Linked DNA regions of Homo sapiens: regions 1, 2, 3 and 4 are each linked to region 5. Evidence: fine-mapped expression QTL. A gene starts in region 5. Each other region holds a variant in brackets. All regions are shown on one strand. Distances are between the middles of the regions. Region 1 overlaps ZSWIM5 (zinc finger SWIM-type containing 5). Region 2 has its middle 21 kb from the start of LINC01144. Region 3 overlaps EIF2B3 (eukaryotic translation initiation factor 2B subunit gamma). Region 4 overlaps ARMH1 (armadillo like helical domain containing 1). Region 5 holds the start of UROD (uroporphyrinogen decarboxylase).

Evidence for each region.
Region 1: its variant is fine-mapped to the expression of UROD in whole blood (TOPMed, PIP 0.98).
Region 2: its variant is fine-mapped to the expression of UROD in whole blood (TOPMed, PIP above 0.99).
Region 3: its variant is fine-mapped to the expression of UROD in whole blood (TOPMed, PIP above 0.99).
Region 4: its variant is fine-mapped to the expression of UROD in monocytes after Pam3CSK4 (Quach 2016, PIP 0.95).

What each region holds. Positions count from the first base shown.
Region 1 is chr1:45,100,731-45,107,151 of GRCh38, forward strand. The region is part of intron 1 of ZSWIM5 (zinc finger SWIM-type containing 5); the gene reads right to left. Among named protein-coding and RNA genes, the nearest start is that of UROD, 92 kb to the left of the region's middle. The variant G/A (reference allele first, on the strand shown) is at 3,001.
Region 2 is chr1:45,279,541-45,285,961 of GRCh38, forward strand. No RefSeq gene overlaps it. Among named protein-coding and RNA genes, the nearest start is that of LINC01144, 21 kb to the right of the region's middle. The variant C/T (reference allele first, on the strand shown) is at 2,902.
Region 3 is chr1:44,903,103-44,909,523 of GRCh38, forward strand. The region is part of intron 5 of EIF2B3 (eukaryotic translation initiation factor 2B subunit gamma); the gene reads right to left. Among named protein-coding and RNA genes, the nearest start is that of PTCH2, 63 kb to the left of the region's middle. The variant A/G (reference allele first, on the strand shown) is at 3,545.
Region 4 is chr1:44,708,556-44,714,976 of GRCh38, forward strand. The region is part of intron 6 of ARMH1 (armadillo like helical domain containing 1); the gene reads left to right. All of the region lies in intron 2 of LOC105378690 (a long non-coding RNA gene), which reads right to left. Among named protein-coding and RNA genes, the nearest start is that of RNU5F-1, 10 kb to the right of the region's middle. RefSeq lists a silencer at 4,523-4,582. The variant C/CA (reference allele first, on the strand shown) is at 3,980.
Region 5 is chr1:45,008,319-45,014,739 of GRCh38, forward strand. It overlaps UROD (uroporphyrinogen decarboxylase), which reads left to right and starts at 3,936. Exons shown (of 10, transcript NM_000374.5): 1 at 3,936-3,967; 2 at 4,589-4,701; 3 at 4,818-4,897; 4 at 4,974-5,036; 5 at 5,276-5,473; 6 at 5,591-5,752; 7 at 6,121-6,258; 8 at 6,418-6,421. The coding sequence starts at 3,948. It overlaps HECTD3 (HECT domain E3 ubiquitin protein ligase 3), which reads right to left and starts at 3,006. Exons shown (of 21, transcript NM_024602.6): 1 at 2,571-3,006; 2 at 2,228-2,388; 3 at 1,883-1,975; 4 at 1,668-1,803; 5 at 1,250-1,365; 6 at 1,051-1,164; 7 at 826-908; 8 at 218-383; 9 at 1-3. The coding sequence starts at 2,939. RefSeq lists silencers at 2,673-2,842, 2,923-3,052 and enhancers at 3,813-3,862, 3,903-4,032, 5,443-5,979.

The DNA of each region.
Region 1 (6,421 bases), 92 kb after region 5:
TCAGAAATAACACCACACATCTACAACCATCTGATCTTTGACAAACCTGACAAAAACAAGAAATGGGGAAAGGATTCCCTATTTAATAAATGGTGCTGGGAAAACTGGCTAGCCATATGTAGAAAGCTGAAACTGGATCCTTTCCTTATACCTTATACAAAAATTAATTCAAGATGGATTAAAGACTTAAATGTTAGACCTAAAACCATAAAAACCACAGAAGAAAACCTAGGCAATACCATTCAGGACATAGGCATGGACTTCATGACTAAACCACCAAAAGCAATGGCAACAAAAGCCAAAATTGACAAATGGGATCTAATTAAACTAAAGAGCTTCTGCACAGCAAAAGAAACTACCATCAGAGTGAACAGGCAACCTACAGAATGGGAGAAAATTTTTGCAATCTACTCATCTGACAAAGGGCTAATATCTGGAATCTACAAAGAACTTAAACAAATTTACAAGAAAAAAAACGACCCCATCAAAAAGTGGGCAAAGGATATGCACAGACACTTCTCAAAAGGAGACATTTAGGCAGCCAACAGACACATGAAAAAATGCTCATCATCACTGGTCATCAGAGAAATGCAAATCAAAACCACAATGAGATACCATCTCACACCAGTTAGAATGGTGATCATTAAAAAGTCAGGAAACAACAGATGCTGGAGAGGATGTGGAGAAATAGGAATGCTTTACACTGTTGGTGGGAGTGTAAACTAGTTCAACCATTGTGGAAGACAGTGTGGCGATTCCTCAAGGATGTAGAACTAGAAATACCATTTGACCCAGAGATTCCACTACTGAGTATATACCCAAAGGATTATAAATCATGCTACTATAAAGACACATGCACATGTATGTTTACTGCAACACTATTCACAATAGCAAAGACTTGGAACCAACCCAAATATCCATCAGTGATAGACTGGATTAAGAAAATGTGACACATATACACCACGGAATATTATGCAGCCATAAAAAGGACGAGTTCATGTCCTTTGCAGGGACATGGATACAGCTAGAAACCATCATTCTGAGCAAACTGTCACAAGGACAGAAAACCAAACACCGCATGTTCTCACTCATAGGTGGGAGTTGAACAATGAGAACACCTGTACACAGGGCGGGGAACATCATATCCCAGGGCCTGTCGTGGGGTGGAGGGCAGGGGAAGGGATAGCATTAGCAGAAATACCTAATGTAAATGACGAGTTAATGAGTGCAGCAAACCAACATGGCACATGTATACCTATGTAACAAACCTGCACATTGTGCACATGTACCCTAGAACTTAAAGTATAATAAAAAAAAAAAAACTGTGAACTATGTATTTTATATTTCTGTTACCTAACAGTCTGGCATAGAGTAAACATTTATAAAAGTGTTTGCTGAACTGAATTGCTTAAAATCATTCAATGGTTCTCCACTGATTACAAGATAAAGTTCAAACTTCTTACAATATGATTTCTTTCTATCTCTTCAGACTTGCTTCATACCACTCTCCCACATTCCAAACACACCAAACTATTTGCAGATTCTTGACTATGCTGTTTTCTCCATTTTCTTATCCTTTATGCCTTTGCATGTGAAGTTTCCTATACCAGGCATGACCTTCTCATTTCCTTCTCATGCTAATTCTTGACTCAAATGAGCCCCTACTCTGGGAAGTCTTCCCTCATCTTTTTGGACAGCTAGTTAAGTGCTTCTTCCTAAGCACTCATTTTTCATCAGTCATATCTCCATTATAGTACTTGACATCAATGTAATTGTCTTCACATTTATCGTTTCCCTTTAGATTGTGAGTTCCTTGAATAAGGGAGTTATGTATATCTTTTTCATCTCTATATTTTCATCTCAGGCACATGGTAAGGACTTAATAACTGACTGTGTATGGATGAATGAATAAATGAACACTAAACTGAATCTTTTACATATTTATATCTACAGTTCACAGAGGATTAAGCATGTTTATAAAATTCCTGATTTGTGATTAAAATAAGCCAGTAATTAAATAATTTTACTGAGACGGTGAGCAAAGTAACAATAATTTGTATATTTGGTATAATATTGAAACACCAAGATTATTTTCCATAATGTATGTATATAGATTTTTAAATTATTTATTTATTTATTTATTTGGTGGGGGTACAGGGTCTTGCTTTGTCGCCTAGGCTGGAATGTACTGGCATGATCACGGCTCACTGCAACTTCGACCTTCAGGGTCAAGTGATCCTCTCACCTCAGCCTCCCAAGCAGCTGAGACCACAGGCATGCGCCACCAATACCTGGCTAATTATTATTTTTTTAATGTTTGTAGAGATGAGTCTTGCTATATTGCCTAGGCTGGTCTCAAACTCCTGGTCTCAACTGATCTTCCTGCCTTGGCCTCCCAAAGTGCTGAGATTGAAGGTGTGAGCTGAGCCACCATGCCCGGCTCATAATTGATATTTATGCCTGTTATGCTTCTGCCAATTTTTATAACCTATTTTCAAAAATATAAAATACAAGCAGTTTTTATCAGCCAACATTTACTGGATATACTTACTACATGACAGATAGTATTCTAAGTGCTTCCCATGTATTAACTAATTAACTAATTAAATGCTCAAAGCAACCCTACAAAGTAGATTCTGTTGTTATTTCCCTGTTTCCGATAAGAAAACTAGGATAAGAGAGATAGAAGAACTTGTCTAAGATCACACAACCTGTAAAATGTAAAGTTGGGATCTGAACACAGGTAGTCTGGCTCCAGAGCCTATATTCTTAAGGACTACAATATATTAAATATGACTCTGAAGTTTAAATTTGTATACAAAACTTTGTAAAGGTAATTAGCAAGTGTAATTCTACAAAGACAGAGAGTCCTGCACTAATAACAAGTCAGTAAACTCTGACATTTGCCTGTTTTCCTGGGCAAATGTTCAAGGTAACTGAAACTGACAAGTGCTGTGATGCTCTCATAGTTGGAATGAAGGTGGGCTCATGAACTCATCT[G/A]TACAAGAAAATGTATCAGGACATGAGTGAATCATCTGCTTAGAGTTCTAAAGGAAAGCACTTCTCAGTGCAGCCCTTTGACACCATTCAAAGCCTTTTGTTTTTCTGAGTGCAAGAAAGGCTCTAGTAAAGCTTGGGCAATTAAAACCACTTTTCTCATTGCTCTTTTGATTCACCAGGCCCCTAGGCAGGTGTTAATGCATGAAAATGATTATCATTTCAGCCAATAGCAGGGAAAAGAAGAGATGTGGTTTATGAAAAGAATATTTTTTCTTATAGTCAGTTAAAAAGGATATGCAAATATATAAACTAAGTAACTTCTTTGACTGAGAAAGCTTCCTCTTGAATAAATTTGGTTTTGATGAAACTGCATAGTATAAATTAGACCTTCTCACTTAATTCCTGTCTCCCGGAAGGCCACAGCAGTATACCAGCAGAAGTAAAGCAGCCACTCTTTCTCTCCTTTTTGTCACTTAGCAAAACAGTAACCAGAACAATTAAAACAATGAGAGTGACATCTATAAAATAACTAATTTCCTTTCCAGAAAGCCTTTCTCAAAAGCTGGGTAACAACTGCCTAAACAAGAGCACTGGAATGGCTCCATATACTATCGATACAAACAGATTAGGAATCAGAATGCTTGAGTTGTAATTCTAGTACCCCTCAATTCCTCTTTGCCTCAGTTTCTTAATTATGCAAATAGACATAATACTACTTAGCTGCCTATCAGACTCATGTGAAAGTAATTTGTAAAGAACACATTTCCCAAAGATATCATTCAATAGCAATCCCAACTGGCCACGCCTGGGGCCTATATAAGTTCACAAGAAGCAGATGGTGCCCAAACACTGGGTGAGGGTGCGAGAGATTGCAAAGTGAGGAGCAGTATTGTTATTTGGGAATACAAATGATGCTGCCCCATTACCCTGAGAACTACTTGGTTTGTTTGTATTATAGAGGTCACCCTAAGCTTCTCAGAGCAGCTGAGTAAGCTAGAGGGCCCTTCTTGCGGCCATCTGCTCCCCTCCCAGACTCCTCTGGCAAATCAAGTGGTTTTCCCTGTATTAACCTCCGAAGAACAGCCATTGGCCCCCCTCAGCACCAGCTTCAGCAGCCAGTGGTCTCTGTTCTCCATCTGTACCAGAAACCACAGTTCAAGAACAATGAGGCTTCCGAAGCCCAGGTATTCACTTACAGCGATAACCTTGCATTTACCTAGTTTTCTAGTGTTCTTTCACTTGTGCCCCTACAAGGAAATTAGATGTGTATTTTAAAAGACTGAGATCTTCGGCTCGCCGCAACCTCCCTGCCTTGGGCTCCGGTGATTCTCCTGCCTTGGCCTGCCGAGTGCCTGGGATGCCAGGCACGCGCCGCCACTCCTGACTGGTTTTTGTATTTTTGGTGGAGACGGGGTTTCACCGTGTTGACCAGGCTGGTCTCCAGCTCCTGGCCTCGGGTGATCTCCCCGCCTCAGCCTCCCGAGGTGCTGGGATTGCAGACGGAGTCTCGCTCACTCATGCTCAATGTTGCCCAGGCTGGAGTGCAGTGGCATGATCTCGGCTCGCTACAACCTCCACCTCCCAGCCGCCTGCCTTGGCCTCCCAAAGTGCTAAGATTACAGCCTCTGCCTGCCTGCCACCCCGTCTAGGAAGTGAGCAGCGTCTCTGCCCGGCCGCCCATCGTCTGGGATGTGAGGTGTGCCTCTGCCCGGCCGCCCCGTCTGGGAAGTGAGGAGCGCCTCTGCCCGGCCGCCCCGAATGGGAAGTGAGGAGCGCCTCTGCCTGGCCGCCCCGTCTGGGATGAAGTGAGGAGCGCCTCTGCCCGGCTGCCCCGAATGGGAAGTGAGGAGTGCCTCTGCCTGGCCGCCCCCTCTGGGAAGTGAGGAGCGCCTCTGCCCGGCCGCCCTGTCTGGGAGGAAGTGAGGAGCACCTCTGCCCAGCTGCCCCGAATGGGAAGTGAGGAGTGCCTCTGCCTGGCTGCCCCCGTCGGGGAAGTGAGGAGCACCTCTGCCCCGCCGCCACCCCATCTAGGAAGTGAGGAGTGTCTCTGCCTGGCTGCCCATTGTCTGGGATGTGAGGAGAGCCTCTGCCCGGCCGCCCCGTCTGGGATGTGAGGAGCACCTCTGCCTGGCCGCCCCATCTGAGAAGTGAGGAGCACCTCTGCCCGGCCGCCCCGTCTGGGAGGAAGTGAGGAGCGCCTCTGCCCAGTTGCCCCAAATGGGAAGTGAGGAGCGCCTCTGCCCGGTTGCCCCGAATGGGAAGTGAGGAGCGCCTCTGCCCGGCCGCCCCGTCTGGGAGGTGAGGAGCGCCTCTGCCCGGCCGCCCCGTCTGGGAGGTGAGGAGCGCCTCTGCACGGCCGCCCCGTCTGGGAGGTGAGGAGCGCCTCTGTCCGGCTGCCCCGTCTGGGAGGTGAGGGGCGTCTCTGCCCGGCCGCCCCGTCGGGGAAGTGGGCGCCTCTGCCCGGCCGCCCCCTCTGGGAGGTGAGGGGCGTCTCTGCCCGGCCGCCCTGTCTGGGAGGTGAGGAGCACCTCTGCCCCGCCCCCTCTGGGAGGTGGGGAGCGCCTCTGCCTGGCCGCCCATCGTCTGGGAGGTGGGGAGCGCCTCTGCCCGGCTGCCCCGTCTGGGATGTGGGGAGCGCCTCTGCCCGGCCACCCCATCTGGGAAGTGAGGAGCGCCTCTGCCCGGCCGCCCCATCTGGGATATGAGGAGCGCCTCTGCCCGGCCGCCCTGTCTGGGAAGTGGGGGGCGCCTCTGCCCGGCCGCTCTTACTCTGGGAGGTGGGGAGCGCCTCTGCCCGGCCGCCCATCATCTGGGATGTGAGGAGCGCCTCTGCCCAGCTGCCACCCTGTCTGGGAAGTGAGGTGCCTCTGCCCGGCCGCCCCGTCTGGGAAGTGAGGCGCGCCTCTGCCCGGCCGCCCCGTCTGGGAAGTGAGGAGCGCCTCCGCCAGGCTGCCCCATCTGGGAAGTGTATCCAACAGCTCCAAAGAGACAGCGACCATCAAGAATGGGCCATGATGACTATGGCGGTTTTGTCGAAAAGAAAAGGGGGAAATGTGGGGAAAAGAAAGAGAGATCAGATTGTTACTGTGTCTGTGTAGAAAGAAGTAGACATAGGAGACTCCATTTTGTTCTGTACTAAGAAAAATTCTTCTGCCTTGGGATGCTGTTAATCTATAACCTTACCCCCAACCCCCTGCTCTCTGAAACATGTGCGTGTCAACTCAGGGTTAAATAGATTAAGGGTGGTGCAAGATGTGCTTTGTTAAACAGATACTTGAAGACAGCATACTCGTTAAGAGTCATCACCACTCCCTAATCTCAAGTACCCAGGGACACAAACAGGGCCGAAGGCCACAGGAACCTCTGCCTAGGAAAACCAGAGACCTTTGTTCTCGTGTTTATCTGCTGACCTTCTCTCCCT
Region 2 (6,421 bases), 270 kb after region 5:
ACTTGAAAAACTAAGAATGAAGGAAAACTACATCAACATAATTAAAACCATATATGAAAAACCCACAGGAAATAGCATACTCAGTGGAAAAAGACTGAAAGCTTTTCCTCTAAGATCAGGAACAAGACAAGATTCCCACTTTTTTTTTTTTCCAGATCTGCAGCAGGAAGGGATGCCCACTTTCACCATGTCTGTTTCACCACTTCTTTTCAGCATAATGGTGGAAGTTCTAGCCAGAGCAATTAGGCAAGAAAAAGAAAACGCATCCAAATTGGACAAGAGGAGTAAAATCATCTGTTTGCAAATAATGTGATTTTATATGTAGAAAACCCTAAAGATTTCACAAAAAACTGTTAGAACTAATAAATGAATCAACAAAGTAGCAGGATATACAGTCAATATGCAAAAGCACTTGCATTTCTATACACTGACAGTGAATAATCTGAAAAGGAAACTGGAAACAATTCCGTTTACAATGCTTAGGAACTAAGTTAACCAAAGGAGTGAAAGATTTATACAATGAAAACAGCAAAACATTGCTGAAAGAAATTAAAGAAGTTATAAATGGAAACACATCACGTGTTCACGTATTGGAAGACTTAATATTGTTAAATTTTCTGTACTACCCAAAGCAATCTACAGATTCAATGCAATCCTTATCAAAATCCCAATGACATTTTTAAATAGAAAAATGCATTTTAAAACTAATATAGGGGCCGGGTACAGTGGCTCATTCCTGTAATCATAGCACTTTGGAAGGCCAAGAGGGGAGAACCTCTTGAGGTGAGAAATTTGAGGCTGCAGTGAGCTATGATTGTGCCGCTGCATTCCAGCCTAGGTGTAGTGGCACAATCGTAGCTCACTGCAGACTCAAAGTGGCACAGCCATTATATCTAGGGATTTTCTTTCTTCCTTTTCTTTTTTCTTTTTTTTTTTTTTTTTTGTTGTTTTTTGAGACAGAGTCTCCCCTGTCTTCACTCTGGAGTGCAGTGGCACCATCTTGGCTCACTGCAACCTCCGCTTCCCAGGCTCAAGCTATCCTCCCACCCCTGTCTCTTAAGTAGCTTACAACAGAGCAAGACTCTGTCCATGAAAATATAAATAAATGGCTGGGTACGGTGGCTCACGCCTGTAATCCCAGCACTTTGGGAGGCCAAGGAGGATGGATCACCTGAGGTTAGGAGTTCAAGACCAGCCTGGCTAATGGGGCAAAATTCCATCTCTACTAAAAATACAAAAGTTAGCCAGGTGTGGTGGTGCGCACCTGTAGTCCCAGCTACTTGGGAGGTTGAGACAGGAGAATTGCTGAACCCAGGAGGCAGAGGTTGCAGTGAGCCGAGATCACGCCACTGCATCCCAGCCTGGGTGACAGAGTGAGACTCCGCCTCAAAAAAAATAAAAAATAAAATAAATAAATAAAAATTTTTAAAAATTCAGGCCAGAAGTGATGGCTTACACCTGTAATCCCAGCACTTTGGGAAGCTGAAGTGGGAGGATCACTGGAGGCCAAGAATTCAAAACCAGACTGGGCAACATAATGAGACTCTGTCTCCACAAAAAAACAAATACAAAATTAGCTGGGCATGGTGGTGGGTGTCTGTGGTCCCAGCTACTCTGGAGGCTGAAGTAGGAGGATCACTTGAGCCCAGGAGTTTGAGACTGCAGTGAGCCATGATCATGCTACTGCACTCCTGCTTGTGTTACAAAGCAAGACACAGTGTCAAAAAAAAAAAAAAAAAATTACTCAAGCCCTGTCCCACACAATGTGGAAGTCTGTGCTAAAAAACTTTGTGTTTTGTATATTCCTTGGAAAAATCTCGTGTTCCCCTTATCTCTGCTTCTCCTGTTCTCCAGCTCATGATGACTTCTCTATTTGACCTAAGGTTCTTCCTTGGACCTTCCCATCTTCTCATTTATTCTCCTCACTGACCCCCTCTCTCCAACTTTCTCAGGCCTATTCCCCCAGGCTGCCCCAAACTCCAAATTCCTCTCACTTCTTCCTTTCTTGAGCAGAGCAATTCTGCTCTCTTTATCTCATACCTCCCCCTCCCTTCCTTACCCCTCCCAAGAATCACTGGCTGTTTCCTCAATAAAAAGAACCACCTGGCCAGGCGCGGTGGCTCACGCCTGTAATCCCAGCACTTTGGGAGGCTGAGGTGGGTGGATCACTTGAGGTCAGGAGTTCAAGACCAGCCTGACCAACATGGTGAAACTCCATCTCTACTAAAAATACAAAATTATCTGGGCGTGGTGGCGCATGCCTGTAATCCCAGCTACTCGGGAGGCGGAGGCACGAGAATAGCTTGAACCCTGGAGGTGGAGGTTGCAGTGAGTGAGATCATGCCATTGCACTCCAGCCTCGGCAACAAGAGCGAAAAAACAAACAAAAAAGAACCACCTATCCGTGCTGCGAATGTTGTCCCTTCCCTGGAAGTGATAATAAGCCAGGAATTATCTTTCTGAAGAGCAACATTTTTCCTTCCCACTATTACATAGAGAAAATCATTCCTTTACCATCACCATCTGCCCATCCTCTGTGCCTCTCCATACACTGTTCCCTCTGCCTGGAACACCCCACACAATCCCCAGCACCGTCACTTGGCCCATCCATCATACGAAACTTCAAGTCTCCCTCAAACATTACGATCCCCAGCACCTCTTACATTTGCTGACTGAATAAATAAGTAAATTATGTCTTCTCAACTCTCAAATACAAACAGCATTCATCTCTGCAAAAAATCTTCAGCAAAAATAAAGCAAAATTGGCTCAGATTTAATCTCACGGGCCTCAAATTTTGAGCTACCCTTATCAGTAGTTTCTCCTCCTGCTGCTTTATTTCTAGAATTGTTATTAGCTCCTCCAAGGTGAAAGTTAGCCAAGACTGGATCATACTTCCCTTT[C/T]CTTCCTCATGTTCATTAACTCCTTTAATTCCTGTATTTCCAGGATGGAGCACGCTGCTTGTCAGAAACACAGCTGTTTCCCTGTGGTCTCTGTACCATTTTGTAAGACCTTTTTGGCATTTTGGCATTTGCTCAACATTTGTGGGTTTGCTTTCCTTCCTTTGCAAGTGAAATAGCTTCAATAGTAGCTAATAGCTAACAACACAATTCTTCTGATTTCTTAAAAATTATACTCTAGATCATTTGGAAAAGAGCTGCTTTCACATCGTAAGTAGCAAATTTAGAGAAAGGAATGCTCACATTTATCGAGATGTGGTCTTAAGGTAAAAACAGGTAACTATGCACTATGGCACTAATACTTTAATAATTATTTGTGTTGTTGATTCTAATGCTATTTTCCCATAGCATTCCCATATACATTGCAGATTAGCAAAGTAAATATTTCATCAGCCCCAATCTTCTAGAAAATGTCATATGTTTAACCCCTAACATATTGGTCATTTTTGTTGTTTCCCTTTTCAGTATTTTATAAAAAACATTTTGAAGTGTTTTCACAAAGTTTACAATTTCCTTTTTCTTTTCTTTTCTTTCTTTCTTTTTCTTTCTTTCTTTCTTTCTTTCTTTCTTTCTTTCTTTCTTTCTTTTTCTCCTTCCTTCCTTCCTCTCTCTCTTTCTTTCTTTCTTCTTTCTTTCTTTTTTTGATTTTGAGATAGGGTTTCCCTCTGTTACCCAAGCTAGAGTGCTGCGATCATAGCTCACTGCAACCTTGAACTCCTGGGCTCTAGTGATGCTCCTGCCTCAGCCTCCTGAGTAGCTAGGACTACAGACACATGCCACCATGTCTGACAAATTTTTTAAATTTTTTTTTGTAGAGGCCAGGCACTGTGGCTCACGCCTGTAATCATAGCACTTTGGGAGGTCTATGCAGGCAGCTCACTTGAGGTCAGGAGTCTGAGACCAGCCTGGCCAACATGGTAAAACCGTGTCTCTACTAAAAATACAAAAATTAGCTGGGCATGGTAGTGTGTGCCTGTAATCCCAGCTATTTGGGAGGCTGAGGCAGGAGAATCGCTTGAATCTGGGAGGTGGAGTTTGCAGTGAGCTGAGATGGCGCCACTGCACTCCAGCCTGGGCAACAGAGCGAGACTGCATCTAAAAAAAAAAAAGGGGGGGTTGTGTTTTATAGAGACAGGGTCTCACTATGTTGCCCAAGCTGGTCTCAAACTCCTGGCTTCAAGCGATCTTCCCACCTCAGTCTCCCAAAGTTCTGGGATTACAGGCAACAGCCACTGTGCCCAGACTCCTTTGCCCATTTTTAAATTTAGTTATTGTTTTCTCACTATTAGGTTGTATGAGTACATGTTCTTTAATTTTTTTCCCTTGCAAATCAACACAGAATGAACTGAATAAACACCAATGGGCATCCAAATTAGCATGAAGAGTCAGCATTTTCAGCATAACTTAATGGTGGCTATTGGATCTCAATTGTAATAAATTTATAAAATATGCATTTTGTCACCACTATCAGCAACTTCATTTTTCCATTTCCCACTTATTTATATAAAATACCAGTAAAATGCACAAAAAAATCAAATAGCTGTACAAATCATCTTGTACTGACAAAGTTGGCAAAACCAGAATTGCTTAGCACAGTATGAGATAAAAATGTTCACTTATCAGCAGATGTGCAAACATTCAACATGCTTTATTTAGGCCGGGTGCAGTGGCTCATGCCTGTAATCCCAGCACTTTGGGAGGCTGAGGCAGGTGGATCACGAGGTCAGGAGATCAAGACCATCCTGGCTAACACAGTGAAACCCCATCTCTACTAAAAAAAAAAATACAAAAAAATTAGCCTGCCGTGTTGGCAGGTGCCTCTAGTCCCAGCTACTTGGGAGGCTGAGGTAGGAGAATGGCGTGAACCCAGGAGGCGGAGCTTGCAGTGAGCAGAGATCGTGCCACTGCGCTCCAGCCTGGGCGACAGAGCCAGACTCCATCCCAAAAAAAAAAAAGCTTTATTTAGAGATATCAAAGTGTAATGTACAAAATTACAGGTTGTAATTAAGTCAAGAACTACCCCTACTTCTCTTTTGACCATCTTTTTTAAAGTTAATGACACTGGTTGGTGGAGCCAAGATGGCCGAATAGGAACAGCTCCCGTCTACAGCTCCCAGTGTGAGCAACACAGAAGACGGGTGATTTCTGCATTTCCAACTGAGGTACCGGGTACATCTCTCTGGGGAGTGTTGGACAGTGGGTGCAGGAGAGTGGGTGCAGTGCACTGAGCATAAGCTGAAGCAGGGCGAGGCATCGCCTCACCCGAGAAGTGCGAGGGGTCAAGGAATTCCCTTTCCTAGTCAAAGAAAGGGGTGACATACGGCACCTGGAAAATCGGGTCATTCCCACCCTAATACTGTGCTTTTCCAACGGTCTTAGCAAACGGCACACCAGGAGAATATATCCTGCGCCTGGCTGGGAGGGTCCTACACCCACAGAGCCTCCCTCATTGCTAGCACAGCAGTCTGAGATCAAACTGCAAGGCAGCAGCGAGGCTGGGGGAGGGGCACCTGCCATTGCCGAGGCTTGAGTAGATAAAGCGGCCAGGAAGCTCGAACTGGGTGGAGCCCACTGTAGCTCAAGGAGGCCTGCCTGCCTTCCTTTGTAGACTCCACCTCTGGGGGCAGGGCATAGCCAAACAAAAGGTAGCAGAAACCTCTGAAGACTTAAATGTCCCTGTCTGAAAGCTTTGAGGAGAGTAGTGGTTCTCTCGGCACGGAGTTTGAGATCTGAGAACAGACAGACTGCCTCCTCAAGTGGTTCCCTGACCCCCAAATAGCCTAAATGGGAGGCACCCCCCAGTAGGGGCAGACTGACACCTCACACGGCCGGGTACTCCTCTGAGACAAAACTTCCAGGGGAATGATCAGGCAGCAACATTTGCTGTTCACCAATATCAGCTGTTCTGCAGCCTCCGCTGCTGATACCCAGGCAAACAGGGTCTGGAGTGGACCTCCAGCAAACTCCAACAGACCTGCACCTGAGGGTCCTGACTGTTAGAAGGAAAACTAACAAACAGAAAGGACATCCACACCAAAACCCCATCTGTACGTCACCATCATCAAACACCAAAGGTAGATAAAACCACAAAGATGGGGAAAAAACAGAACAGAAAAACCGGAAACTCTAAAAAGCAGAGCGCCTCTCCTCCTCCAAAGGAATATAGCTCCTCACCAGCAAAGGAACAAAGCTGGATGGAGAATGACTTTGACGAGTTGAGAGAAGAAGGCTTCAGACGATCAAACTACTCCGAGCTAAAGGAGGAAGTTCGAACCCAAGGCAAAGAAGTTAAAAACCTTTTAAAAAAATTAGACAAATGGCTAACTAGAATAACCAATGCAGAGAAGTCCTTAAAGGACCTGATGGAGCTGAAAACCATGGCATGAGAACTACGTGATCAATGCACAAGCCTCAGTATCCGATTCGGATACTGAGGAAGAAAGGGTATCAGTGATGGAAGATC
Region 3 (6,421 bases), 110 kb before region 5:
TGCTTTAATTTAAAGAAAGCTGAACACAAAGATATATGTACCATGAACACTGTACAAAACATCTGTGAACGATAGAGCTAGGGAATAAAAAAAGCAGTTCTGAAAGGCAGCCTTGAAAGAAGGAAATATGTCCATGAAAGACAAAATTAGTACTTTACATGTCCAAAGCTCTTAGTGACTCTAAAAAAAGGTCTTTAGTTAACAACAAGATCTTTAATTTTCCCCCAAAAGATCTCCAGGGATTTTCAGATCCTCATTCCCTTCAAATCTACAAAGGTCCCCAGGCTCAGGGCAATGCCAAATGTTCTTGAAGTCTGCTCCCTTCTTCCCCATTCCCAGCATCATCATGTGTGTGGGAGGAACTGAGTTGTTTTTATCCTGCTCACTGCCTAAGTACAGCAGAAGCCAACTGGGAGTTCTATTCCCCAATATGCTCATTGTACAATGCTTAGTTCCTAGAAGGGTGGGTAGAAAAGAGCTGACAGGCAAAGAAGCAGTTTATAGTAGCTGCATGTTTAAAAACTGAAATTCATCTAGACACCCTGTGTGAACACATTTAGATTTTCAGCATTGCTGTGAATGAGACCGTAAGAATTTCTAGCCTAGTGGGAGAACTGGTATGCATGTTGATATAGTCCACAGTTACTCAGTGAGAAAGGAAAGCCATCATTAATTTAAACTGAGTGTGTTGGCTAGGTGTGGTGGCTCATGCCATAATCCCAGCACTTTGGGAGGCTGACATGGATGGATCACCTGAGGTCAGGAGTTCGAGACCAGCCTGGCCAACATGGCAAAACCCCATCTCTACTAAAACTACAAAAAAAATTAGCCAGGTGTGGTAGCACACACCTGTAATCTCAGCTACTCAGGAGGCCAAGGCAGGAGAATCGCTTGAACCCGGGAGGTGGAGGTTGCAATGAGCTGAGATCATGCCACTGCACTCCAGCCTGGGAGACAGGGCAGACTCCATCTCAAAAAAACAAAACAAACAAACAAAAAAACCCAAAAAACTGAGTGTGTCCTGCCAGCTTATATGGCTGCACAGAATGACTTTTTCCTAACCAAGCTAAGTTCAAAGTTTGGGGACCAGAGAATGGTATTGGGTGAGAACAGAATGAAGAAAACCCAGTTGCACAAAAAAAAGTCAAATACAAGAGAAAATTAATTTTATCACAGGCTTCTCTTTGCATGAATATGAATGTTAACAGAGAAGGAAGTGTCATGGATGGCTTCTGAATTCAGATGCCAGTGGAACTGGAGCTTGAAACAGTTATTCATAAAACCAGAGATAACAATTCAGATGAGGATAAAAGCCTCCTACAGTAACTTAACTATCTTGCAGTGTTCAATGCAGCAACATAAACAACTCCTCTATTTGAAGACCTTCAGATAATCACCTTCTACTTTATTTGGCAATCTTTTTTTTTTTGAGACGGAGTCTCGTTCTGTTGCCCAGGCTGGAGTGCAGTGGCACAATCTCGGCTCACTGCAAGCTCTGCCTCCTGGGTTCATGCCATTCTCCTGCCTCAGCCTCCTGAGTAGCTGGAACTACAGGTGCCTGCCACCGTGCCCGGCTAATTTTTTGTATTTTTAGTAGAGATGGGGTTTCACCGTGTTAGCCAGGATGGTCTCGATCTCCTGACCTCGTGATCTGCCCACCTCGGCCTCCCAAAGTGCTGGGATTACAGGCATGAGCCACCATGTCCAGCCAGATTTGGCAATCTTAAACATATTCCAACAAAGAAGCATCTTCTCTCCCGCTAAAAGAATCAGAGCTAATTCACTACTCCCTAATCACTGCAATTTAGAAGAAACTAGAGACCAAGATATGCTTGAAATAATCAAGTTTTCTCAGAACTAGGGAAAAGGGAATGACCTATGGCTACTACTTACTAGCTACCTATAATTTTAACAAGAGGTGCTGGGGCAAGCACCTGTGGTGTGGCTATCTGGTATTTGCTACATAGGAAGGCACTAACCATACCATCCCAATGCCTGATCTTGGTCACACTGTAAGTGGTAGGAATAACAGATTCTCGATTGTTAGGAGTGCATATGGAGTTATCAAACTAGAGGTCTGCCTGTTCAGCAGGGTAGGCTATGACACCATAGCCCTGAGGTGCTCAGGCCCTCTCCAAAAAAAGCAGTTGTGTTGAGGTGAAAACCCTGGACTCAAAGCAGCAGAGACTGCCAACAGTGGAAGGATTCTTAAGAGTTCCAAGTTCTGCTCCAGGTCCAGTTTTTAGGTGACCTTGTGGGTTTGTTCTTGTTCTTGTCCAGATCCAGCTTTCCTTTCTGACTGATGGTCTGGCTGACTGATAGTGATTTCAGGCTCAACACTAGACACAGAAACAACAGCATACATACACTACTCTACGAGCTTCCGTAATTGTGTAATAAATCCTTTATTCTCTATGACTCACAGCATTTCTGTTTCTCTGATATAAAAATTGCTACTAGAAGTGGTCCTGGAAAAAAAAAAATCTTAAAGATGGGTTTGCTGAACTTGTTCTGTGTTATTTGGAATTGGTTCTCTGATCTGATTAGATTTAAAGGCCTATCAACTAATTGGATGAGGCCCACCCAGATTAGCCAAGATAATCTCTCTTACTTAAAATCAATGGATTGTTGATATTAATTACATACAAAAATACCTTCATAACAACACCTAGATTAGTGTTTGATGGAATAAATAGGTACTACAGACTAGCAAAATTGATACATAAAACTAACCATCACACAGACTAATGAGAGCCACATGTCTAATAAGTAACACAGGAATTAGCAAAGCCTTCCTAGGCAGAATCACACTGCTGTTCACCCTCACCCATCTCAACTCAGCGTGCCAGAACCTGCTGAGATCTAGAAGCATCTCACTCCCCAAGAGGTGCTCAAGAAAGCATTCTGCACAGCACCACTGACAAGAAGCTTCTACTCAAAGATAAGCCCAAGAGTGTTACATCTTTCAAGCTATCCTTCTAAGCTGTCTGGCCCATACAACTCTGGGTGGGGAAAACTGACACATTAATTTGCACTCCACTCTAGTCTCACTGGTCTAGCTAATATGACATTTCAGCAGGTCATGCCCATCATGAGGTAGAGTCTATTTTCTCGTCTCATGAATCTAGGCTGGCCTTGTGACAGCCTTGACCAGAATTATCCCAAGTACACAAGCAATATTCCTACTGTCTTCAGGCCTGGTTCCAAGCTGGTTGTGTAGGAGATGGTCACGGCAAAGGTTCAGTGAAGGATCACTCAGGAGTTCATGCCTCAAAGCTTTGTTTCAGCTTCTGCATGGCTAGAGTTATACTAAATTAGACAGAGTTTCACTCTTGTTGCCCAGGCTGGAGTGCAGTGGCACGATCTCGACTCACTGCAACCTCCGCCTCTCAGGTTCAAGCGATTCTCCTGCCTCAGCCTCCCGAGTAGCTGGGATTACAGGCATGCGCCACCATACCCGGCTCATTTTTTGTATTTAGTAGAGACAGGGTTTCATTATGTTGGTCAGGCTGGTCTTGAACTCCTGACCTCAGGTGATCCGCCC[A/G]CCTCGGCCTCCCAAAGTGCTGGGATTACAGGCATGAGCCACCGTGCCCGGGATAAAAGATATTATGAAACAACCTAGCTCAGACATTCCCCACCCTTGAGGTTCAACAGCTGGGCAAATAACTTTCTCCTAAGTACCAGGTATGTACAAGACACTAAGTTGACATCTATATATTAATGCTTACAAATTTATATCTGAAGCATAGTCCTATCCTCTGAACACCGAGTCTATATATGACTTACTCCTGTTTACCTGGATCCCCAAATGAACTTCGGATCTCCCTGCCACAAACCCAGTGCTTCCTATCTGATTATTATCCTGCTGCTCAAACCTGAAATGTGAGTCTTTTTTGACACCACTACACTTCTCAACCCCAAGGTTCAAACACCAAGTCCTCAGATTTTACCTGCTAAATCCTTCTCTAACTTATCTACTTTTCTCCAACTCCACTGTCAATACCCTAGTTCAAATTACCATTACTTCTTACCTGGATTACTACAATACCTTCCCTTACTTGGTCTCTCTGCATCCTCTCTTACCCAACTCCAATCCTTTCTCCATATTGTATCCAGAGTTATCTTTCGAAGGCAAATTTGATTGTGTCATTCCCTGCTTAAAATGCTTTGGTAGTGGCTGGGCGCGGTGGCTCATGCCTGTACTCCCAGCACTTTGGGTGGCCGAGGTGGGTGGATCACGAGGTCAGGGGATGGAGACCATCCTGGCCAACATGGTGAAACCTCATTTCTACTAAAAATACAAAAATTAGCTGGGCGTGGTGGGGCGTGCCTGTAATCCCAGCTACTTGGGAAGCTGAGGCAGGAGAATTGCTTGAACCAGGAAGTCAGAGGTGGCAGTGAGCCAAGATCGTGCCATTGCACTCCAGCCTGGCGACAGAGCAAAACTCCTTCTCAAAAACAAACAAAAAATGCTTTGGTAGTTGGGACTACAGTAGATTGTTTTAAAAATGGTCACAGCCGGGCACGGTGGCTCATGCCTGTAATCCCAGCACTTTGGGAGGCTGAGGTGGGGGGATCACCTGAGGTCAGGAGTTCAAGACCAGCCTGACCAACATGGAGAAACCCTGTCTCTATTAAAAATACAAAATTAGCCGGGCATGGTGGTGCATGCCAGCTACTCGGTGGCTAAGGCAGGAGAATCGCTTGAACCCAGGAGGTGGAGGTTGCAGTGAGCCGAGATCACGCCATTGCACTCCAGTCTGGGCAACAAGAGCGAAACTCCATCTCAAAAAAAAAAAAAAAAAAAAAAAAAAGATGGCCACAATTATTCCCCTCTCTGTACTCATATCCTTTTGTAAAGTAACTTTGCAGCTCCTCCCATCATGAGGTAGAGTCTATTTTGCATCTCATGACTCTGGGCTGGGCTTATGACTGCTTTGATCTGAAGAATGTGGTGCAAATAATGCTGTTCCAGCCCTTTCTCCAATTCACAAGATTAAGAAGTCTCAGCTCTGCCTATAAAGACTCTGTTGCCAAAGCACATTCAAACACAAGGTGACACTCTGGCTCCATTAATGTCCTCTTCCAACAAATTTACTGGGATCCTACTATGTCAGGCCATGTATTAGACCTTAGGCCTACAAAGACAAAATACAACCACTATCCTTATGTAACTTATAGTCCAGAGCAATACAGGGTTATAAATGTTACCACAGAACTTTCTTCAGTATATAGGGGAGCACAAAGGAAGAAGCACGGTTCTGCCTATGACAGGAAAGATTAGAAAAATCTTCACAGAAAAATGATATTTGAGCTGAGTCTTGAAAGAAAAATAAGTTCTTAGCCAGGGAGAGAAGAGTAACTTTGGCTGAAGGATTACCAGGAACGGTGAAAAGTAAAAGGACAAAGACATTACAAGGAATGCAGAAGTTAACAGAACTATAAGCAATTTTTCATAGCTACTGATAGAATGTTGAGAATGGGGTTGTGTTAGAGAAAGATGAGATATAAGGCTGGAGGGGTAAGCATGATTAGATAACTGAGGGCTTTAGGAATGTGTGCTTTATTCTACAAGCAATGTATTTATAGATTTGGGATAAAGAGATAGTGGAAAGCAAAGTTGAAAATTCTGGAGAATGTTGAAAAAACTAATGGAGAAAAGGTTCCAGGAGTGGCAGAAGAAAGGGGGTAAAAGGCATAAATGAAGGGACTGGCCCCAAACTTCTTCTAATGCTGGAGGAAAGGAATCGAAGGTGGGTCTGAATAAAGGCAAAGTCATGGATGGGGTAGCTGGGGAAATCAGCAGGCCCATGTTTTGACAGGAGAATGGTGATGGTAGAGAACAGCTTCTGAGAGGAGTGGAAAGCTGGCCCAGGACAAATGGAAGAATGAAGAGTGGTTCTGAGGGTTCAGCTAAGATAGGAGCCATGAATTTATAGTGCTGCCAATTTATATCCGTGCATAATATTTCTCCTAAAGACTTTGGACTTGGAGAGAAATGCCTGAAGGCACAGGACCTAGATTGGATGAAGAAGGAAATGAGGGGGGAAAAGAGAGAGAGAGGGAGAGAAAAAAGAGAGGGTAGGAGTGGTGGTAGTAAGGGACTAGAAAGATTTGAGGCTGAAATAAGGAAACAGGATTCTGGGTAAAGATGGCAGATTAAACATAAGCGTTAACCCATCCTCTTTCTGAAAACTCACTGAAGTGTCAGTACAGATTTTTTTTTTTTTTAAAGACATAAACCCACAAGGACAAAGACCACAAGAAGAGATGACAACAAAATTTTGGAAGCTGGAAAACAAAAGGATGGTGGTGGTAACAGATTTAGCATATCCAAGAAAGGTGAATCCTAAACCATCTATAAGGAAAGCTAAGAAGCAGCTTGATTTGTATCTCAGGAGCCCTGAAATGATCAGGAATT
Region 4 (6,421 bases), 300 kb before region 5:
ATGTGTGTGGGGCAGAGTGGGAGGTTATTGGCATCCTTCCCTTAGAAAGCTACAGGGAAAGTGGCATCCTCAGGACAACAGGAGGCGGAGGGGCTTAGGGGGCCTGGCGATTGTTTATCTTACAGTGGGTGTCAGTGATGGAGGAAGCTGCTGGTGGTGTCACCTCCTTTTCTATGAAGAACGCTACCTTCCCCCACCAACCTGCCTGACCAGTGAGTCAGGTTAGCCACGTCCTCTGCTCTCCTTCCCATTATGAGAGTGTCCCTGGTTCCTATCACAGGCCCTCTCTTCTGCTTATTCTCTGAAGCACATTCCCTCAAAGACTTCCCTTCTGTAGCTCACCTCTCCCTTTTTCTCTGCTGGACCATCTCCATTGACGTGCAAATATGCTCTCTATCTTCCATTGTTAAAAGAGCCCCTCTTTGAGAATTTATGGATTAAAAGAGACTTAAAAGACATGTACCAAAAAGGTAAAATTATAGCATTTAGGGATGTACACCCCTCCTTGACCCCAAGTTGCCCCCCAGCTATTCATTTCTTTACCATTTCCTTCCTACTTGACCTCCCAGCTGCTTTCGACCCAGTTGATCACTCCCTCACTTTCTTTTGTTGGCTTCTGTGATAGAAGTTTTCCTCCCACCGTCTGGTTTTGCCTTAGTCTCCTTTGCTTGTTTCTCCTGTTTCTCTACCAGACTGTTAGGTCACCCTCTTCCTTCTCATCTCTGTATACTTTTTCCCTAAGTGGTTTCCCATGTGGATGTCTAACAGACATCTTAAATTTATGGCCAGAATTCTTGAGTTTCTTCCCAAAGCCTGTCCTTGTTTTCCCTATCTCAGGCAGGCGCGGTGGCTCACGCCTTTAATCCCAGCACTTTGGGAGGCCAAGGGGGGCGGATCACGAGGTCAGGAGATCGAGACCATCCTGGCTAACACGGTGAAACCCCATCTCTACTAAAAATACAAAAAATTAGCCGGGCGTAGTGGCATGCGCCTGTAGTCCCACCTACACGGGAGGCTGAGGCAGGAGAATAGCTTGAACCCAGGAGGTGGAGGTTGCAGTGAGCTGAAATCATGCCATTGCACTCCAGCCTGGCAACAGAGTGAGACTCCATCTCAGAAAAAAAAAAAAAAATTATCTGAGCATGGTGGCGCGCACCTGTAGTCCCAGCTACTCAGGGAGGCTGAGGCAGGAGAATTGCTTGACCCAGGAGGCGGAGGTTGCAGTGAGCCCAGATCATGCCACTGCACTCCAGCCTGGGTGATAGAGGGAGACTCCATCTCAAAAAAAAAATTGCTGAAAATATGCTAACAAATACGTATAAGAATCAAGTCCATGGTAAAATGGAACTGTTTATGAATTTGGAAAATGGTCATTTGTAGAATACAATTTTTGTCTACTTGACCTAGAACCTGGAATTAACTTGACTTGCTAATCAAATGATCATTTCATATATTAATAGCGAAGTTGAAAGTATGGTTCATCAGCCCCAAAGTACAACAGTGGGGCTTGTAGCTGAGCGAACTCTCGCACTAACACAGTGGAATCCTCTAGAGATGCTAGTGCAGGGAAACAGTGGCCCTAACTGACCAAACCGAACAGACATGGACAAGGCTTTGAATGCGTGACACCTCCTCCCCTGGCCCCCTGAAACCTGGAGAGACTGGTGGTCGCAAGAACCTCATTGTTAGTTTCCTTCGGTTCTTGGCTGTGTAAAGTTACTTAGGTTCCTAATTCTAAGAGGTATGATTGATCTAGAAATTAATCACAGATTGGCCGGGCATGGTGGCTCACACCTGTAATCCCAGCACTTTGGGAGGCCAAGGCAGGTGGATCACGAGGTCAGGAGATCGAGACCATCCTGGCTAACACGGTGAAACCCCGTCTCTACTAAAAATACAAAAAATTAGCCGGGCGTGGTGGTGGGCGCCTGTAGTCTCAGCTACTCGGGAGGCTGAGGCAGGAGAATGGCGTGAACCCAGGAGGTGGAGCTTGCAGTGAGCCGAGATCATGCCACTGCACTCCAGCCTAGGCAACAGAGCAAGACTCCGTCTCAAAAAAAAAAAAAAAAAAAAAGAAAAGAAATTAATCACAGATTTGGTTTACTTCTTTCTTCATAAAAGCACATTTTTTAACTGAGATGACATTCACATAACATAAAATTAACCATTTTAAAGTGAACAATTCAGTGGCATTTAGTATACATTCACAGTGTTGTACAACCACCATCTCTATCTAGTTCCAAAACATTTTCATCCCCCCAAAAGGAAACCCTGAATTCAGCGAGCAGCTATTCCCCTTCCACTCCCTCCAGTCCCTGGGAAGCCCCAATCTTCATTCTGTCTCTATGGATTTACCTATTCCATATATTTCACATAAATGGAATTATACAATACATGACTTTTATGTCTGGCTTCTTCCACTTAGCATAATATTTTCAAGGTTCACCCACATTGTAACATGCATCAGTACTTCATTCCTTTTTGTGGATGAATAATATTCCGTTGTATGTATCTACCACAATTTGTTTATCCATTCATTCATTATTAGACATTCGGGCTATTTCCAGCCTTTGGCTCTTGTGAACCAGTGCTTCTATGAACATCCACATACATGTAATTGAGTACCTGTTTTCAGTTCTTTGGGGTATATTACCTAGGAGTGGAATTGCTGGATCATATGGTAATTCTGTTTAACTCGTTGAGGAACCCACTAAACTGTTTTCCACAGTAGTTGTACCATTTTACATTCCCAGTAGCAGCAATATATGAGGATTCCAATTTCTCCACTTCCTCACCAAACTTGTTATTCTGGGGATTCTTTAATTATAGCCATCTTAGTGGATGCGAAGTGCATTTTCCTAATGAATAAGGATGTTGAACATAGACGTGTTTCATAGACTTGTTGTCCATTTGTATTTCTTCTTTGGAGAAATGTCTATTCAGGTCCTTTTTCCATTTTAAAATTGGTTGTTGGGTTGTAAGAGTTTTTCATATATTCTAGTTTCTGTGCTCATCAAATATATGGTTTCTCCCATTCTGTAGGTTCTTTTCACCTTCTTGATAATGTCCTTTGTTGTTTTCATTTTCAATGATTTAAGTTTCTCATTTATTCATTTACTTATTCAAAAAGAATGGCACTGGGGTGGGCACTGAGAGTATAGTGACAAATGAAACAAGTCCTTGTTCTCACAGAGCTTTGTTACAACAGTGATACTAATGGTAATGTTAACTCATAACTACTACTAGTGACCAACAATGACTGTGTGCCCAGCATTGTTCTAAGCTCTTTTACCATCTCATCTATTCCTCAGAACAACTCTGTGAAGTAGGTACTATTTTCATCCCCAGTTTACAGATGAGGAAACTGAGGCACAAAGCAATTAAATAACCTGTCCACAGTCTCAAAATGATAAATGAGAAAGCTGTAGATCAAACCCAGTCAGTCTGCCTCCTGCGCCCATCCCCTCACCACCACACTATTCTTTCTTCAGTATTAGAACAAGACTTGCCTTGTTTTTACCAGCTTTGAGAAGTAGATAAAAACCCAAGGACACCCTTTTAATCCCAGCACTTTGGGAGCCCGAGGCGGGCAGATCACTTGAGGCCAAGAGTTTGAGACCTGGCTGGGCGCAGGGGCTCTCACCTGTAATCCCAGAACTTTGGGAATCCAAGGCGGGCGGATCACCTGAGGCCAGGAGTTCGAGACCAGCCTGGGCAACAAGGTGAAATCCTCTCTCTACTAAAAATACAAAAATTATCTGGATATGTGGCAGGAGCCTGTAATCCCAGCTACTTGGGAGGTTGAGGTAGGAGAATCACTTGAACCTGGGAGGCAGAGGTTGCAGTGAGCCGAGATCGTGCCACAGCACTCCAGAGTGGGCAACAAGAGTGAAACTCCATGAAACTCTGTCTCTACTAAAACTACAAAAATTAGCTGGGCATGGTGGCTCACACCTGTGGTCCCAGCTACAGGGAACCG[C/CA]AAAAAAAAAAAAAAAAAAAAAAGGACAGACAACATTGTTAAGATTACAGTAAACCATATTTTTAAAATTATGTTTTCTTAGCTTCATACCCCTCACAGGGTTAAGCAAATACATCAGGATTTCTTCTTTTTTCTTTTTTTTTTTTTGAGATGGAGTCTTGCTCTGTTGCCCAGGCTGGAGTGCAGTGGTGCGATCTTGGCTCACTGGAACCTCTGCCTCCGAGGTTCAAGCGATTCTCCTGCCTCAGCCTCCCAAGAAGCTGGGATTACAGGCATGTGCCACCACGCCCAGCTAATTTTTATAACTTCAGTAGAGACAGGGTTTCACCGTGTTGGTCAGACTGGTCTCAAACTCCTAACCTCAGGTGATATACCCGCCTCAGCCTCCTAAAGTGCTAGGATTACAGGCGTGAGCCACTGCACCACCTGGGTCTCATTTAAAAACTAGTGTTTTTGCCTTACAGAACGTTATGCCTTTGCTTTGCACTTTTTTTTTTTTTAAGACGGAGTCTCGCTCTGTCACCCAGGCTGGAGTGCAATGGCAAGAGCTACTGCGCCCGGCCTTTTTTTTTTTTTTTTTTTTTGAGACAGTCTTGCTTTGTCACCCAGGCTGAAGTGCAGTGGCATGATCTTGGCTCACTGCAACCTACACCTCCTGGATTCAAGCAATTTTCGTGCCTCAGCCTCCCGAGTAGCTGGGACCACAAGCATGCAGCACCATGCCTGGCTAATTTTCATATTTTTAGCGGGGATGGGGTTTCACCATGTTGGCCAGGCTGGTCTCCAACTCCTGGGCTCAAGCGATCCACCTGCCTCGGGCTCCCAAAGTGCTGGGATTACAGGTATGAGTCACTGCACCCGGCCCTGCTTTGTACTTCTCAGCTGACATGGGCAGTAATTTTAGCCTTTCCTGCTGTATAAGAGGCCACCTGTCCTGTACAGCTTCATTGAACAGCAGTCAGAAGGCTCTGACACTGAGGGAGACTTTCACATAAAAACCTGCTATTTTTAAAAGATGCATTACTTCCCCAAAAGTATATGAGCACTTCAACTGTGACACTTTATTCAGCGTTTATAAAAGTCTATAAAACAGTCTTCCAGGGGATTTAAGTGAAAATCTTGGGGGGAAATCTTATTTCTAACTTCCCCATTTGCCTGCCCCTCAAAACATCTGCATCCTGCCCTTGCCTTATACTGCGTCCTTTTTGAGGACACTGGTGCTTGACTCGAGTCTCAGGGATAGTTCAAAACATCAGTACACGGACTGGTTGGGCTGGGTGAAAGCAGATACCAGTGGAAGACACACCATAGTAATTCTTTGTCCAGCAATAAAAATACCACCATAGCACATACATTAGTTACTTTGTTGCCTGGCTTTAAAAACAAAAGGTGTGCATAAAATATATTTTTATTGTTTCAACATTGAGCTTTGAACAGAATGTAGTTAGAGAGGTAGCAGGGGGCCTGACGCAGTGGCTCACGCATGTACCCAGCACTTTGGGAGGCCGGCGGATCACGAGGTCAGGAGATCTAGACCATCTGGCTAACACGATGAAACCCTGTCTCTACTAAAAATACAAAAAAAATTAGCCGGGCGTGGTGGCGGGTGCTTGTAGTCCCAGCTACTTGGGAGGCTGAGGCAGTAGAATGGCGTGAACCTGGGAGGCGGAGCTTGCAGTGAGCCGAGATTGCACCACTGCACTCCAGCCTGGGTGACAGAGCGAGACTCCGTCTCAAAAAAAAGAAAAAAAAAAAAAAGAGGGAGCAGGGGCCAGGCCTGGTGGCTCATGCCTGTAATCTCAGCACTTTGGGAGGCCGAGGCCGGCAGATCACCTGAGGTCGGAAGTTCGAGACCACCCTGACCAACATGGAGAAACCCCTTCTCTACTAAAAATACAAAATTAGCCGGGCGTGGTGGTGCATGCCTGTAATCCCAGCTACTTGGGAGGCTGAGGCAGGAGAATCCCTTGAACCCGGGAGGCGGAGGTTGCGGTGAGCTGAGATCACGCCATTGCACTCCGGCCTGGGCAACAAGAGTGAAACTCCGTCTCAAAAAAAAAAAAAAAGGTAGCAGGGTATACAGAAATCAGAGACAGAATTAATTACAGAATGTCAGGAAGATGGCTGACACTGGTCTCTTCCTTTTTTCTTGAGGCAGGGCCTTGTTCTGTCACCTAGGCTGGAGTGCAGTGGCGCATGCACGGCTCACTGCAGCCTCAACCTCCTGGGCTCAAGTAAGTAGCTGGGACTACAGGCACATGCCACTATGCCTGGCTAATTTTTTTTTTAATTCTTTTTAGAGATGGGATCTCACGATGTTGCCCAACCTGATTTGACTGTCCCCGGCCTTTTTTCTTTTTTTGTTGGGGGGGAAACAGTTTTACTGTTTCCCAGGCTGGAGTTGAGTGGCTTGACAGCTCACTGCAGCCTCAAACTCTTGGG
Region 5 (6,421 bases):
AATCTGGCATGGGTAGATAGACTGCAGCTAAAGAGTTTAGCATACCTGTAACACCCCCAACTCCCCAACATAAAGGGACAGGAAAAGGCAGGACCTGGGGGCTTCTCTGACCCTTGAACAGCTTATACTATGAGACCTTGGGAACCTCCTCCATGCAGACACACAAGGCTCAATGTTGGGGGAAGGGAAGGGCCCATAGGTCCAGGACCACAGCCACCTCTGCAGGAGGACAGCTCTGCGGTACAGTACTTCAGGGTCGGTGCCTTCTAGGCGTGGATATCGCACCAGACTAGTTGGCTGGAACAGGTCTGCATTCAACCCTAGTTCCCGCTGTCTAGATGACTTGATCTTGACCCCTCGGAGACGAACATCAATCCCATCATCTGGGGGAAGGGGTCAGAGTAAGGTCATTTACAGCACCTGCTGCCTCCTTGGCCCTCAGACCTGGGACCGGCTCCTTGAACGCTCAGCCTTGTGTCACCGTTAGCCCCTAGAAACTCGGGACCTTCGGGATCACCTTCTATCACCTGATTCTGATTGATCTATTCCTGCTGATTCCTCTGTCTTCCACTAGAATGCTGGGATGCCTGAGGGTCCCAACTCAGTTCCTCTTCCAGGTGAGCCCAACCACCTGTATGGCTTTAAGGCAGGCCTATACCTGGCATGTCCCAGCTGGCTCAGGCCCCAAAGCTCCAAATCCTGGAGTTAGTTCAGCATCGCCTTCACCCCAACTCCAAGCCCATCCTCTTCTCTCCACACACACTCTCTGTTTGCCCCCATCTCCACGCCGGGCTCTCTTTCCCTCCTTATAGCCTTAAACCTCACCTCGGCACTCCACGATGCGGATCTCGATGATCGGGAGGTGGACGGTCATGTCCTCCAGGACACAGACATCCCCGATGAGGGTCCTGAGGAGATGAGTGTGAAGCACTTCAGATACCTCCTGCCTCAGGCCTTCAGAGACTGCTGGAGTCTCACTCAAACTTAGGCTTTCAAGCTGGGCTAGGCTTGGAACATGCCCTACTTCCCTCCCCAGGCCAGCGTGCTCACTCGTCAATGCTCACGTCACTCAGCTTCTTCAGGTTGTCCCCTTCACCCCCATAGACCACCACCCGCTTTGGCATAAAGTTGTCATCTGTGGTATCCACTGTGAGTAGCAGCTTCCTGAAGGGTCAGAGTGTGAATATGAGTCTTTGTGAACCCACAGGGACATAGCCCACCCACCCTGTCCTGCCCAGAGCCTACTTACTTGACAATGGTGCCCTTCTTCATAGTAAGCCGTACCCAGTGTTGGCACTGGGACCCATCGCTCTCCCAGTAGGTATCGGCATTGCTGTCTGTCAGGCAGGACACGTTGAACTCCTCCTGGGGAGGGGCAGAGACGTGAAGTCAGCAGTTACCCTCCCTCCCTGCACTGGGCTTGTGCTCTGGGCCAGGAGCACCAGAGAGAAAGCATAGTGAAGTTGGGCTAACAGGCAACTGGTATGGGATAGGGGGCCGCTGGGTATGTAAGGGGTCCTATAGACGTCCAAGATGGGGAGCTGAACTGAGTGTGGCCTGTGGGGACCCTGTTTTAGTCCTGGCCTGCAGGTGGGGGTTCTTTCTGGATCTAGCCTTGAGGGGTGTGACTATATCTTGCCTGGGGTGGGAGGAGCCCCAGCACCCACCGTGTAGGAGGAAACGTCTATGCTCTCCACATACTGCTTCACGCTACCCAGGTTCTCATCCTCCTTGCCCAGGTGGTCATACAAGAAGTGGATCAGGTCCTCGTCGCACTCGTAGGTCCATGTCGGGGGTACATAGCTAAGCAACCCCAAGCCCCTAATTAGACTGGGCCCAGACGCAGAGCTCCTTCCTCCCCACCCCATTCCAGCTCACTCACAGTAGCCTTTGTACAGCTTCTGCGTATGCCTCTGCCGGCTGAGGTCTCGATCCCAGGCGATGTGAGTATGTCAGGTCCACCACCTGTTCCCACCTGTGGGCACAGAGTAGGGAGTGGGATGGGGAGACATCAGCGGTCAGCAAGACACTACCTCCATGCCGTGTAGCCTTCTTCAGGGCTCTATCTCCCAGTCTCCCTCCGAGCCCCCTTCACGTCCCGCCCCTTTCTGCTCTTAACCCTGCCTCCGCTCCAGTATCCCACCCACCCCAGGCTGTGGCTGAAGTGTTCCCAAGCCCTCCTGGCCCGGCCTTCTGACAGCCAGCCCCGCTCCTTCAAGTGCAGTACCTGAGCACCGGCCGATAATCCACGCCAAAGAGCTGCTGCTGCCGCTGGAGGTGGTTGGGAGTGTCGATGGGTACCAGGCGGGCTCCGCCCTCCGCCGGGCGGCACACCAGCAGCCAGCCTTCCTGCAGCCCGCAGTCGCCCAGGTGCTCTGCCAGCTGCTCCTGCCGGGACGCGTAGGATGGGGACAGCCGTCAGGGAACTGCCCAGCCGCCTGTCGTGCCCAGCCCAGGGCAAAGGGCGCCGAACGCAATGCCAACTCAATACAGGGGAGAAAAGGCAAACAGCCAGAGGTTTCTCTGGCCCCAGGGGTCTTTTACCGGGTCCTGGGCAGGGAAGAGCGCACCTTTGTCAGCTTCACCCAGAGCCCGTGGCCATTGCACAGCTCCTCGCCCGTGGTGCGCACGCAGGCGCCGCGCCGGAGCTCAATGCTGTCGCGGGCGGCGCGGAGGGGCCCGGAGCCGGTACCGGGGGCTGGGCCTGCGGCGCCCACACGCAGCCCCAGGCCCTCTGCCTCCCACACCGGCAGAAGCACGCGCGACGGTCCCGCTGGGTCCTTGTAAAGCTTGTAGAGCACCTCTCGCGGCACGAAAGCCAGCGCTGCTGGCAGCGGCCGCCCGGCGCGGAGGCTCCGCGCTGCCTCTGCCAAGAAGCGCACGCGGCCCAGCAGCTGCCGGGGGGACTCCAGCACCGCGCCCGGGCCAGGACCCGCCATGGCGAAGTGGCGGAGGTGAGCACCTAGAGGCGACCCTGCCCGGGGAACAGCTGGCGCGACCGCGGACAGAGCTTCCCACCACGCCCTTCCCCGCCTTTGGCCAGCCTTTGCCGTATGTTCTGGACTAAGCGCACCCCAGCTCTCACTGTATTGGACTGTGTACTCCCACACTCAACCATATTACTTATCTCTGTGCCACCCTAACCCAGCCGACCAAACCCAAGATTGGTGATTGCTACCTGATCAATCTCCCTCTCTCCATTTCCTTGTGACTACCATTTTATCTCTACTGCTACTACCCTCATTCAAGTCACCATTCTAGCTAGCCTGGGTCATTGCCAACAGTCATTTTTCTGGTTCTTCGGCCTGCTGTTTTTCCTCCCACTCCCAGCGAATCTGCTGGACTCCCTATCCTATGGGTGGTGTGATTAAAGTGTTTGAGACAATGGCCCCTTCCCCTGCCACTGACAGGAGTCTTGAGTCATTAGGGTTGATTCTGTTTGTCACTCCTAATCCCAAGGACACTGGAGATCATTATTCATTTTAATGTGATTGCTGATTTCTGTTTCCCCAGTCTTGTAGCTCCTTAAAGGCTGGGGCTGTCTTGAGCAGAGCTAACCTCTGCACCTACTATAGGTCCAGGCTATAGTATGGACCTGGCTGGATAAGACTGTTGGTATCATGAGTGGGACTTGCGCCAAGCCTCCGGATACCCAGACTGTCAGATGAGAACAAATTCCTCATGTCACCGTAAGATACATTTACAGCGGAGTTTTCTTTTGGGCCTTTGTTGTTGCGTCGCTACAGCAAACTTTACGGTGAAAAAAGGTAGGGGTCCTACGGGCAGCAGCCAGGGCAGCCCTGGAGCTGTCGCTGGAGTCCGATCATGTGATCTTCAACATGGCGACGCTCTTGGTTCCCTACAGAAAGGGGCGGAGCCTGGACTGGGGGGCAGGCTCAGATTCAGGTTAAATTGTGGATTGAGCTCGCAGTTACAGACAGCTGACCATGGAAGCGAATGGGTTGGGGTGAGTTCTCCAGAGCACGCGGTGTGGCTAGCCGGGCTTCTAATTTGAGTCTTCCAACTCAGGACTCTATCCCTCTACTCCCCTTTCCCCACCCTGGAGACCTCCCAACCTGAACTCCGTTAGCTGGGATCCTGAATCCTAAAACCATGGATTTTTGAGATGTTCATCCCAGGGCCTTAATTCAAGGGATGCCTCAGGATTTCCAACCAGGATCTCTATTCTGGGACCATCAACTCTGATCCCTCTTTATCCCCCAGCCTGGGTATTTCTCAGCCCCTGAACCAGCCCAGTGACATTCCCGTTTCTGAGGCTCACTAGTTCGAAGACCCCCAAACTATCCTTAGTGGGCCTTCATTCCCTCCCCCCAGTCCCTCTGGTTGCTTCGAGCTTGGAAGAGTAGAGACTAAGTGGAGGGAAGAGGCCCCAGGGCGGGCCCTTCTGGAGTTTGTGCACCACCTGATAGGCAGAGAGGAGGCGGAACGGGCGGAAAGCCAGGGTTTGGGAGCTGGCCTGGAGGAGGTAGATAGCGGTCCTGGACTGAATCGGCCTTATGAACCCGCGCTTTCCCCAGCCTCCAGCGTAGCATACTGACACCTACCCCCACCCCCACCTGATCGCCAGACCTCAGGGTTTTCCGGAGCTGAAGAATGACACATTCCTGCGAGCAGCCTGGGGAGAGGAAACAGACTACACTCCCGTTTGGTGCATGCGCCAGGCAGGCCGTTACTTACCAGGTAAGAGTCAGGGTCTGGAAATCTAGATAAAACTCCGGAGGGAGAAAAGTTTTCGAGGGGCAGGGGAGGGCTCTGGAGGGCCTCAAGGCTGAGCCCTGTCTTCCCTCTGTATGCAGAGTTTAGGGAAACCCGGGCTGCCCAGGACTTTTTCAGCACGTGTCGCTCTCCTGAGGCCTGCTGTGAACTGACTCTGCAGGTGAGGGGTCCACAAAAGAGGGAAAGATTTATGCCTTCAGTCTGCCACCTAGCAACCTGTCTCCTGTTTCCTACAGCCACTGCGTCGCTTCCCTCTGGATGCTGCCATCATTTTCTCCGACATCCTTGTTGTACCCCAGGTACCCACTCAAACCTGATCCTAGAATATAATCCAAGGACGCCTTGAAAATCCTTCTATCAGTCCAGTCAAGGTTTACAATAAGCACTTATCCTAACTGGATCGAGGGAAAAACTAAGGTTGAAAGAAATGGAGTTTGGCAGAGTTTTATTCTCCTTTTCCTTCCTCCTGGAATGAGCTGAACAGAACCTTTCCTCCTGGATTCCATTTTGGGAACCCAGATGTTTTCTCCCCCTCCAGGCACTGGGCATGGAGGTGACCATGGTACCTGGCAAAGGACCCAGCTTCCCAGAGCCATTAAGAGAAGAGCAGGACCTAGAACGCCTACGGGATCCAGAAGTGGTAGCCTCTGAGCTAGGCTATGTGTTCCAAGCCATCACCCTTACCCGACAACGACTGGCTGGACGTGTGCCGCTGATTGGCTTTGCTGGTGCCCCAGTAATGTGGGACAGGGCAGGGACTCGGGGCGCGGGGAGATCACTCTGGAAGGTCTGGGGTAGACAAAAGGAAGGGTCAGTCTGGCTTCTGTGACACCATCTTTCTATCCTTCTCTAGTGGACCCTGATGACATACATGGTTGAGGGTGGTGGCTCAAGCACCATGGCTCAGGCCAAGCGCTGGCTCTATCAGAGACCTCAGGCTAGTCACCAGCTGCTTCGCATCCTCACTGATGCTCTGGTCCCATATCTGGTAGGACAAGTGGTGGCTGGTGCCCAGGTGAGTCCTGAGAGAGAGAGAAATAGGCTGGGATTTGGTCTGTAAGGACCAGAAGCAAGAGTGTCCTAAACCTGAGAGGGCAGGGGTCTTAATGCCAGGGATGAAAGAACCTTGGCCTCCAGTGATCTAGCGGAGCAGCCAAGCCCATCCTGACACTGACAGTGGGGCTTAATGCTCTAAGTATTCAGACACCAAAGTTAGTGCTGGGATCTGAGGAAAGTAAATTTTTTTTTTTTTAATTACTGGGTTTTTAGGGTCAGGCAGTATCAGGGATTGAAGTCATTTGGGGAAAATTGAGGTGGATTTTGTATGTGGGGGAAACTTCCTCTTTGTGTGTTACATATTTTTCTTCACCATACCCTAACTAGGCATTGCAGCTGTTTGAGTCCCATGCAGGGCATCTTGGCCCACAGCTCTTCAACAAGTTTGCACTGCCTTACATCCGTGATGTGGCCAAGCAAGTGAAGGCCAGGTTGCGGGAGGCAGGCCTGGCACCAGTGCCCATGGTGAGGATTGGGATGGGTTGAGTGAAGGTGGTCCTGTGGAGCTTTCAGGCTAAGTCCTGCATGGACTGGAGTGACCACTGGAGGGCAGCAGAAGTACAGTCAAGAAAGATTAGTGGTTGTAGCAAGGCCCTCTGTAGCCTGAGATCTGCTTTTTTCTAGATCA